2 linked regions of the Homo sapiens genome follow. The protein of the gene in region 1 interacts with the protein of each later gene in a pairwise test. Each region holds a gene or a part of one and is shown in the gene's direction. Other genes may lie near its edges. The genes, in order: FABP7 and GPR37.

The links.
Region 2: the proteins of FABP7 (region 1) and GPR37 interact in binary tests that used the Homo sapiens proteins (3 or more experiments, as listed by UniProt).

The regions. Positions count from the first base shown.
Region 1 is NC_000006.12:122,778,235-122,782,683, forward strand, and holds the start of FABP7 (fatty acid-binding protein, brain), read left to right. Parts: upstream 1-1,481; 5' UTR 1,482-1,560; coding exon 1,561-1,633; intron 1,634-2,056; coding exon 2,057-2,229; coding exon of another isoform or gene 2,230-2,277; exon of another isoform or gene 2,278-2,858; coding exon 2,859-2,960; coding exon of another isoform or gene 2,961-3,113; exon of another isoform or gene 3,114-4,449. UniProt on the Homo sapiens protein: B-FABP could be involved in the transport of a so far unknown hydrophobic ligand with potential morphogenic activity during CNS development.
Region 2 is NC_000007.14:124,755,512-124,759,332, reverse strand, and holds part of GPR37 (prosaposin receptor GPR37 precursor), read left to right. Parts: intron 1-3,821.

The DNA.
Region 1 (4,449 bases):
TTGACATTAAGTTTGATTTTAGTGGTAAAGTATTAGAAATGATTCAGAGGTTTCTGGCTTGTACAGTTGGGTGCATGGTGGTATCAGTCACAAATAAAGTGAAAATTGGAAGAAAAGCAGTTGTGAAGGAAGACTACAGTTTTTGTTAAACAAGCGCACTTGAGACACCGAAGAAGAATCATGTAGCCGCCACCTAGCGTAGGAGGCCTTCTGAGCCTTCTCTGTTGGATCTGGTGTGGATTGGGTAGAAATGTGCTGGGCTGCAGTTTAATTGGGAGGGGAGAGAGAAGGGCAGGGAATATCAAGTCGGATTCTCCTGCTCTGTCCCCAGGAGAGGCAGGTAAGCTGCTTTCATTGCTGGTCAGCACTAGTAAGTCAGGAAGGAATCTCTTTGGGTGAAGGGGAATTTCAGAGACTTCCTTTAAATACTCTACTTAGAACCCTCAAGGTATTTGCCATTCTTGGGGAACCCTGAGCCAGGGCAAACTGAAACCAAAGCCCTTCTGATTCCTACCGCTCCTCCAGTTCCTGCCCTTCCCCATCACTAACTCCCAACAAATGTACACAGATTGTATTTGTGTAGATGTGGCCTCAGGAAATCAAAAGGTCCTAGAATGCAGGTAATTTAAAGTCTTACTAAATAATCTTCTGTCCAGTTTTTCCACATGGGTTCTATAATCTATTCAAGGAGATCGGGGGGAAAAGCATTCTTTTATTTATTTTTGTACCTCATTAGTAAGTCCTAACCATACTCTTCCTTAGGTCCCTTTTCCAACTCAGTCTCGTTCTCACATTTTTAGAAAGGACAACGGGATCTTTAAATTCTCTCGGTTTGTGTTGGGAAAGGACCCAAATTAGTGTGCTTCCTCATTGACAGTCAGAGTAGCCTTCAAGCAGTATATCCAGGGAAGGCATTTACACCTCCTCCCCGCCCTCTTTTTCAGTTTGGCCTACTCTAGCCTGCATTTCGCTCTCCCTGTAACTATGAGAGAAAATAACACACACTATTCACTCTCCTTTGTCTGCAAAGTCTGGCATTTCAGTGGTTTTCTTTAAGGGGGGTCCTCATTTGTGACCAGCTTTGTCATTAACGGAAATCAATCTGAATGCCCCATTGTGCATCTTTTTTCTTTCCTTGCAGTCTGAGATTGCCTTTGCCAAGTTTTTTCTCACCGAACCTGAAAGCCCTTCTCTCATTTTCCCGTTCCCTGCCTCCAGCCCCATTGAATCCCTGCCGAGCTTTCTCAGGCATAAGGGCTGTAGTGTGAGGATTGGGAGGAACTCGACCTACTCCGCTAACCCAGTGGCCTGAGCCAATCACAAAGAGGATTGGAGCCTCACTCGAGCGCTCCTTCCCTTCTCCTCTCTCTGTGACAGCCTCTTGGAAAGAGGGACACTGGAGGGGTGTGTTTGCAATTTAAATCACTGGATTTTTGCCCACCCTCTTTCCAAATAAGAAGGCAGGAGCTGCTTGCTGAGGTGTAAAGGGTCTTCTGAGCTGCAGTGGCAATTAGACCAGAAGATCCCCGCTCCTGTCTCTAAAGAGGGGAAAGGGCAAGGATGGTGGAGGCTTTCTGTGCTACCTGGAAGCTGACCAACAGTCAGAACTTTGATGAGTACATGAAGGCTCTAGGTAGGTAACAATAAGACCGGCTGTTCTCTTCTCAACGTGCAGCTTTAGATATTTGCAGATTCCATTTTTCACTCATCAGGTCAGCAAGAGGCAAAGACAGATCACATTGCCCTGATCAGATGCTAGGCTATGCATTTTCCACTGAATGGATTTTTAATGTGGCACTTGCTTGCCTTCTTACCCAGGGCCAATAAAAACAGAACATTTGCTATTCCGTGGAGAATATGAAGCTTCTCTGACTTTTTTGGTTTTCTTCTGCATCCACTTATTATCACAGTAGTGTTTTACATGATTAATGGGCTAATCATGTTCTAATGAAACTTACACTTTAGAACGTGGATTCCAGAATCAGAAAGCAGATTCTTGCTTTGTGAGTTATTTTGGAAGTCGCTGCAGACTGTACTGTTCCCTTTGCTATTTTAGGCGTGGGCTTTGCCACTAGGCAGGTGGGAAATGTGACCAAACCAACGGTAATTATCAGTCAAGAAGGAGACAAAGTGGTCATCAGGACTCTCAGCACATTCAAGAACACGGAGATTAGTTTCCAGCTGGGAGAAGAGTTTGATGAAACCACTGCAGATGATAGAAACTGTAAGGTGAGAAACTGCTTCTTCTTCAGAGTGGGGATGGGGAGAGGGGAATAAAGATAAAGATTTCCAATGCATGTTTTTTTTAAGATGTTGGAAAGTGTAGAATATTTTCAGTATTTCAATCCAAGGAGAAATACACCAAAGTTAGTTTAATGTGCATATGTTATATTTTGAACAATGGGTACTTGCTATAGCATAAATCTCAGTTGTATTTGTCTCTTACCATATACTGTTCACATTTTATATCAAACTTGTATTTCAGAAAATATTTAATAAGGTTTGTTTGAAAGAGAGATTGCATTTTGTTTAATTCCCCAGGTTGCCTCAGATTGACTAAATAGACAGTTTGCCTCATTCTAAGGCTTTCTTTAGAGGGACGACTAGCTGCAAAGCACTGGTTTAGGATTTTTGTTTTTAATATATTAAATTTTTGTATTTAGATGTATACTTTTTAATCAAATTATGAATTCAAATTTACATAATAGAAAATCTAGAAGTAATAGAAATAACAATAGGATAATTAACTGATCATGATTTATTCAATTATACAACTCTTTCAAAAATCACATCGTCTTCCGTATCAGAAATCTGAATTGTATTTATTGCTATGTTCTGCATTTTGTTGTTGGTCTCAGTCTGTTGTTAGCCTGGATGGAGACAAACTTGTTCACATACAGAAATGGGATGGCAAAGAAACAAATTTTGTAAGAGAAATTAAGGATGGCAAAATGGTTATGGTAAGTAATGACAATTCTCCATTCTTCCTTGTTTTTTTCTCCTCTCCGCACACCTCTCACCTCCTTCCTTCTTCTTCCCTCCTCCTTCCATTCTTCCTCCTTCCTTCCTTCTTTAATAATACATCACTGGCAAGGTTCTTTAACTATATGTAAAACAGGGGAAACAAAAAGATCCCAGTTAATTTTCTTCTTCAGCTCAACTTCTTTGATTGTAGAAAAAGAGAAAAATTCATGTGTAGTTAAAAAAATAAAAGTTGCCATTGATTTGCCTAAAACTGTGTCAAAAGATTTTTTGTAGGATAACTATGGATGTCTCTCAAATAAAATTTAATATAAAGCCCATAATCACTGAAATATATAAAGATAATTGCTATTATAAGAGAATCTCAGACAGATGACTTTATAGCTCCTGTAATAAGAGATCTTTAAACAGTTTATATTTTAATTTATAAAGTTACACAAGTTCTGGGCAGATAATTTAGAATATAACAGAAAAGTATAACAAAAAAATTAAAATCCCCTCTGATTTCTCATCAGTGATAACCCTTTTTTTTTTTTTTTTTTGAGATAAAGTCTTGCTGTGTCACCCAGACTGGAGTGCAGGGGGTGCATTCTTGGCTCACTGCAACCTCTGCTTCATGGGCTCAAGCGATTCTACAACCTCAGCCTCCTAAGTAGCTGGGACCACAGGTGCAAGCCACCAACGCCGGGCTAATTTTTTTGTATTTTTGTAGAGATGGGATTTCGCCATGTTGCCCAGGCTGGCCTACAGCTCTTGAGCTCAAAGTGATGCTCCCGCCTGCTGCCTCGGCCTCCCAGAGTGCTGGGATTACAGGCCTGAGCCAAGGCTCCCAGCCCCCAAAGAGAACCATTTTGATGTTACTTCTTTCCAGTTTTTTTCTCGAATGCATAATATGCCTTTTAAACATATATATTCAATACTAGGTAGACATGAAAAATATTTTTTTCAATCAGCCTCTTCTTACTTACTAGGAATTATCTGTAAAAGAGGATTTATTAGTGTCCTAAGGCTGCCACAACAAAGTACCACAAACTTGGTGGCTTAAAACAACAGAAATGAATTTTCTCAGTTCTGAAAGCTGGACGCCTGAGATCAAGGCGACCCTAGTGTTGCCATCCTTCTGCGGGCCCCCTCCCTTGCTTCTTCCTACTTCCCGGATGGCTCCTGGCAATCATTGAGGTTGTTGGGCTTACAGTTGTTATTACTCTGATCCATTTCTGACTCCATCTTTACAAGACTTTTTCCTCTGTTTTTGTCCTAAATTGATCAAATATAAAATAATTAACAAATAATTTATCTAATGATGGAGTAGTATCACAAACTAGGAGAAATATTATGCCTTCACCAAGCCTTCCTCAGACACTTTTTGTGTGACCTGCAATGGTATATTGATGATACTGACATAGGTGGGTAGGCTCATTCAATTTTGGAGGAGGGTGTGAGAATGCTTTACATAGTCCTTGTACG
Region 2 (3,821 bases), on another chromosome or scaffold:
CACTTTGGGAGGCCTATGCAGGCAGATTGCTTAAGCCCAGGAGTTCAAGATCAGCCTGGCCAACAGGGCGAAACTCCATCTTTACAAAAAATACAAAAATTAACGGGATGTGGTGGTGCATGCCTGTAGTCCCAACCATTCAGGAGGCTGGGGTAGGAGGATTTCTGGAGCCTTGGAGGTTGAAGCTGCAGTGATCCATGATCATGCCACTGCATTCCAGCCTAGGTGACAGAGTGGGACCCTGTCTCAAAAAAAAAAAAAAAAAATTCAAATAATTCAGACATCAAATATGGCAACTGGAATGAATCTTTGCTCATTATTTAATGGAAGTCAGAATCAAGGTATCATCTGACCGAGATCCCAGATAACAGATTAAGGTCTGTTTGGACATTAATTGGAGGTTTTGAATGATCGAGATTCTCTTTAGTTTAAAGAACCCACACCTTCATGGAGTGTTGTAGAACAGAAGGCTTCAAATAATTATAATGAGATAACCCCAGATCTAACTGTATTTTTATTTTACTGGGATAAAACTCCTGCACAGAGGTGGAGAGAGAATAAAGGGAACATGTCTTACCATGGCCTCTGGTCTGGGAATAATTTGTGACAAGTCTAGAATCTTTTCTAATGAGAGGAACCAGCTTCTCCAATGACTTTAGCAATACTGGTTTTAAGTTGAGTGGAACAAATGGCTCTTTCATTGCCTTAGATTGTAGCTAGCACTGACAAGAAAGAAAGGGTTTTTGGAGGTTGAAGATGACAGTGCCATACAACTATCTGAGTCTACACAGATTTCCCTAGAACGCCTGTATTCAAGTAATAGAACATTTATCATGGCATATGGTAAATTTTCTTTGAGAGGTGGATTAGTCATTAGGTATTCTGCCGGACTTTTAAGTGGAAACTTACTGTTTTATGAGCAATTTTAAAGTTACTAATAGTATTCTTAGGGAAAATGTGCTCAATATATGAGAATGGTGCTGAACAAATATTTTATGACTTCCCATTAATCTTTTAGTAATCATTTTATATATTCCCATGCAAATGAAAATATTTAGCTGATGACTCTAACAGGAAGAAAAGTGTTTCTTAGAGTGCACTTTTATTTATAACTCCATTTCTGAATGGTGTATGGTGAAGTTAACTGAATTTGGATCTTCCACAAGAAAGAAAAGTTTTATAATATTCAAATAAGAAATCCAAATAGTTTCCTTTTCCATTGATCATAATGAGAATGTGTCCTTTTCTAAAGCTTGTCAATGAAGTATAAATAGGAAAATTGATTTTTTAACTTCCCTTCTATAGATATTGTCTGGCATTCAGCTTTTAAGGATTATATATAAAACAGCAGCACCCAATAACTGATTAAAGAACAATTTGAATAATTTATTATTTTCTGTAATCCTTTTCCATAGGTGTCATCATTCGTTCATTTGTTCACCATTCATTGATTTATCAAATGTTTACCTGGCTTTTCTTCTATGCGAGGTACTATTAGGAGTGGGCAGGAGAAGGCAATACAGGAAGAGGGGGAAAAGTTTCCAAAGATGAATATCATAGATGAGCCACTGCCATTAAAATTACAGAAAAGTAAAGTAATGTTCTACACCATGATGAATATTATAATAGAGGTTTGAACAAAGCATCGTGGAAGCTCAGAAATGGCACTGAAATGGGTCAAGTCACAGTTGTGCTTGTTATGACCAGAGATGGAGAAATTAAAGGGAAAACTGTGCTCCCTCTAATTCTTTTCAGTTACATTCTTACTATTAATCTTCATAAATTTCATAAATGCCTATACAGCCTAGATCCATGATGAAAAGTTACAAATGTGAAAATCTTTTAATTCTTGCTTTTTTGTTTCCTTTAGCTTTCCCAGGATAGAAAGTCCATAATAATAATTGGCAAAATAATTCAGCAAATAGTTCAGTTCTAGAAATTTCTTTTAAAATATGGAATTTGTGCCAGTGCCTAGGATATCTATCTCTGCTTTACAATTAGTCCTTATTAGCTATAAGGACACTAAATACGTCAAAATTAAACATTTTATTTAAATGAATGGCTTATTTGGCAATGTAATAACAGTATATTAAATTGAGTCCTTTTCTTCTGAAAAAATCAAAACATATACAAATTGTTTAACTTGACCTTGGAGAACCTAAGAAAGAAGATGGACAAGGGCGATACTTTAGACTCCATTGTGGAGTCGAGGAAAGGGGAGCACGATGAATGGACTTTCTCAAGAATTGGATTAATCTCTCAAGCACATAATCAGAGTGAAGATTTATTCTGAGCTCCTGAGGGCTCCCAAGGTATCCTGCCATGTCAGCAAAGTATCCTTCCACAGAGACAAGGAGGCAAATGTGTCTGCAGAAGTAAAACAGATATGAGCTTATAAGTTTACCGAAGGCTGAGTGGGTGAGGGTCTACCTTTGCTTTCATATTTAGGCTGCATGGACCTTGATACAATTTTTACACCTTTAATGGCATTCGTCTTATGTGCGGCAACCTTTTAACAGTATCCCATTGGAAGCACATGGACCTGTGTCTGGGATGTAGATTGTGGGAGAGGGATGGGAAGGCAGCTATGCAGTGCAGTTTGTCTCTGCCTCTGCACTTCTGCTCCATCCTCCAGGGATGCGCCTGTCATTTCACTTCCCATGAATTGACCTGCCAAGGTCCAATAATGAACTCAACCTTGTTGCCAAGACTAACTCTTAAATATCCTAATTGGAATAATACTCTTTGTGCCAGAAGAGATGATCTCATCCAAAATTTCAGAGTGGAGTTGAGAATGGGATTACTGCAACGTCAAATATGGAGGGTCTTTTTTTATTTGCAGAGTAAGTGTAGGTACTTTTCATAAACTTCCATAAAACGCAGGATATGATCACTGTGTCAGTCTTGTTCTTGAGACAGAATACTTTCCATTTGTGAATTTGTAATAGTTTTCAGTGTTATCTGTCTGTACACTTGAATAGTTCATAGCATTCATTAATGAGGCCAAGGTCATTGATTTGATCCCTGCCTAGAATGAGACATTCTTATTAGGTCTGTGACTCTATTCAGGGATGTTACTTTTTTCTTTTTTTCTGTCAAAATAGCCCCTTCCTCATCAATTCCCATCTTCAGGGCCTATCTTTACTATTGTCTTCCTAATTCAAATCCTTTTTATATCGGAAAAGCATCTGATAAGCCAATTCGCATCAAGATATGCAATTTAGAAATAACTGCCTTTTATAAGAAGATTGAATCAAGAAAGAAATTTCCTTAACAGACTACCAATAGTGAAATTTTGGTTAAAAGCAGATAAATTCTGTCCTAAAATATGGTTTCTCAATTTTATTAAAATCATGATGACCTAACTATACATAATTTTGTTTTTAGTTTGAGTTCACAGTCATGCAAATCAATATCATTAGTCAGAAAGGGAAATAGGTAAAAATGTGTTACTGCTTTTTGGAAACTCATCAGAACCCCAAGGTAAGGAACTGAAATTCCAGGTCACTTTAAGATTGACTAGGAACATCATAATAATACCAAAGATTGAGAACTGGACTGTGGGCTTGGGGGAAATATTACATTTTGAAATGATTTTGTAATTACTGAGAATAAACATGGAATCTTTAGAATCTAACATAGATGGTTTATATCTTAAGACAAAATGTTGCTAATCTTGCTTCATTTACATTTTTATTTTAATAAACACCTGACAGATTGATAGGAATTATAACATGTTAGGTTGTAGTTAAATGAATTTTTTTAACCATATAAGGAATGTACTGTGCTATAGACATCATAATTGGTAACAAACCTTAATT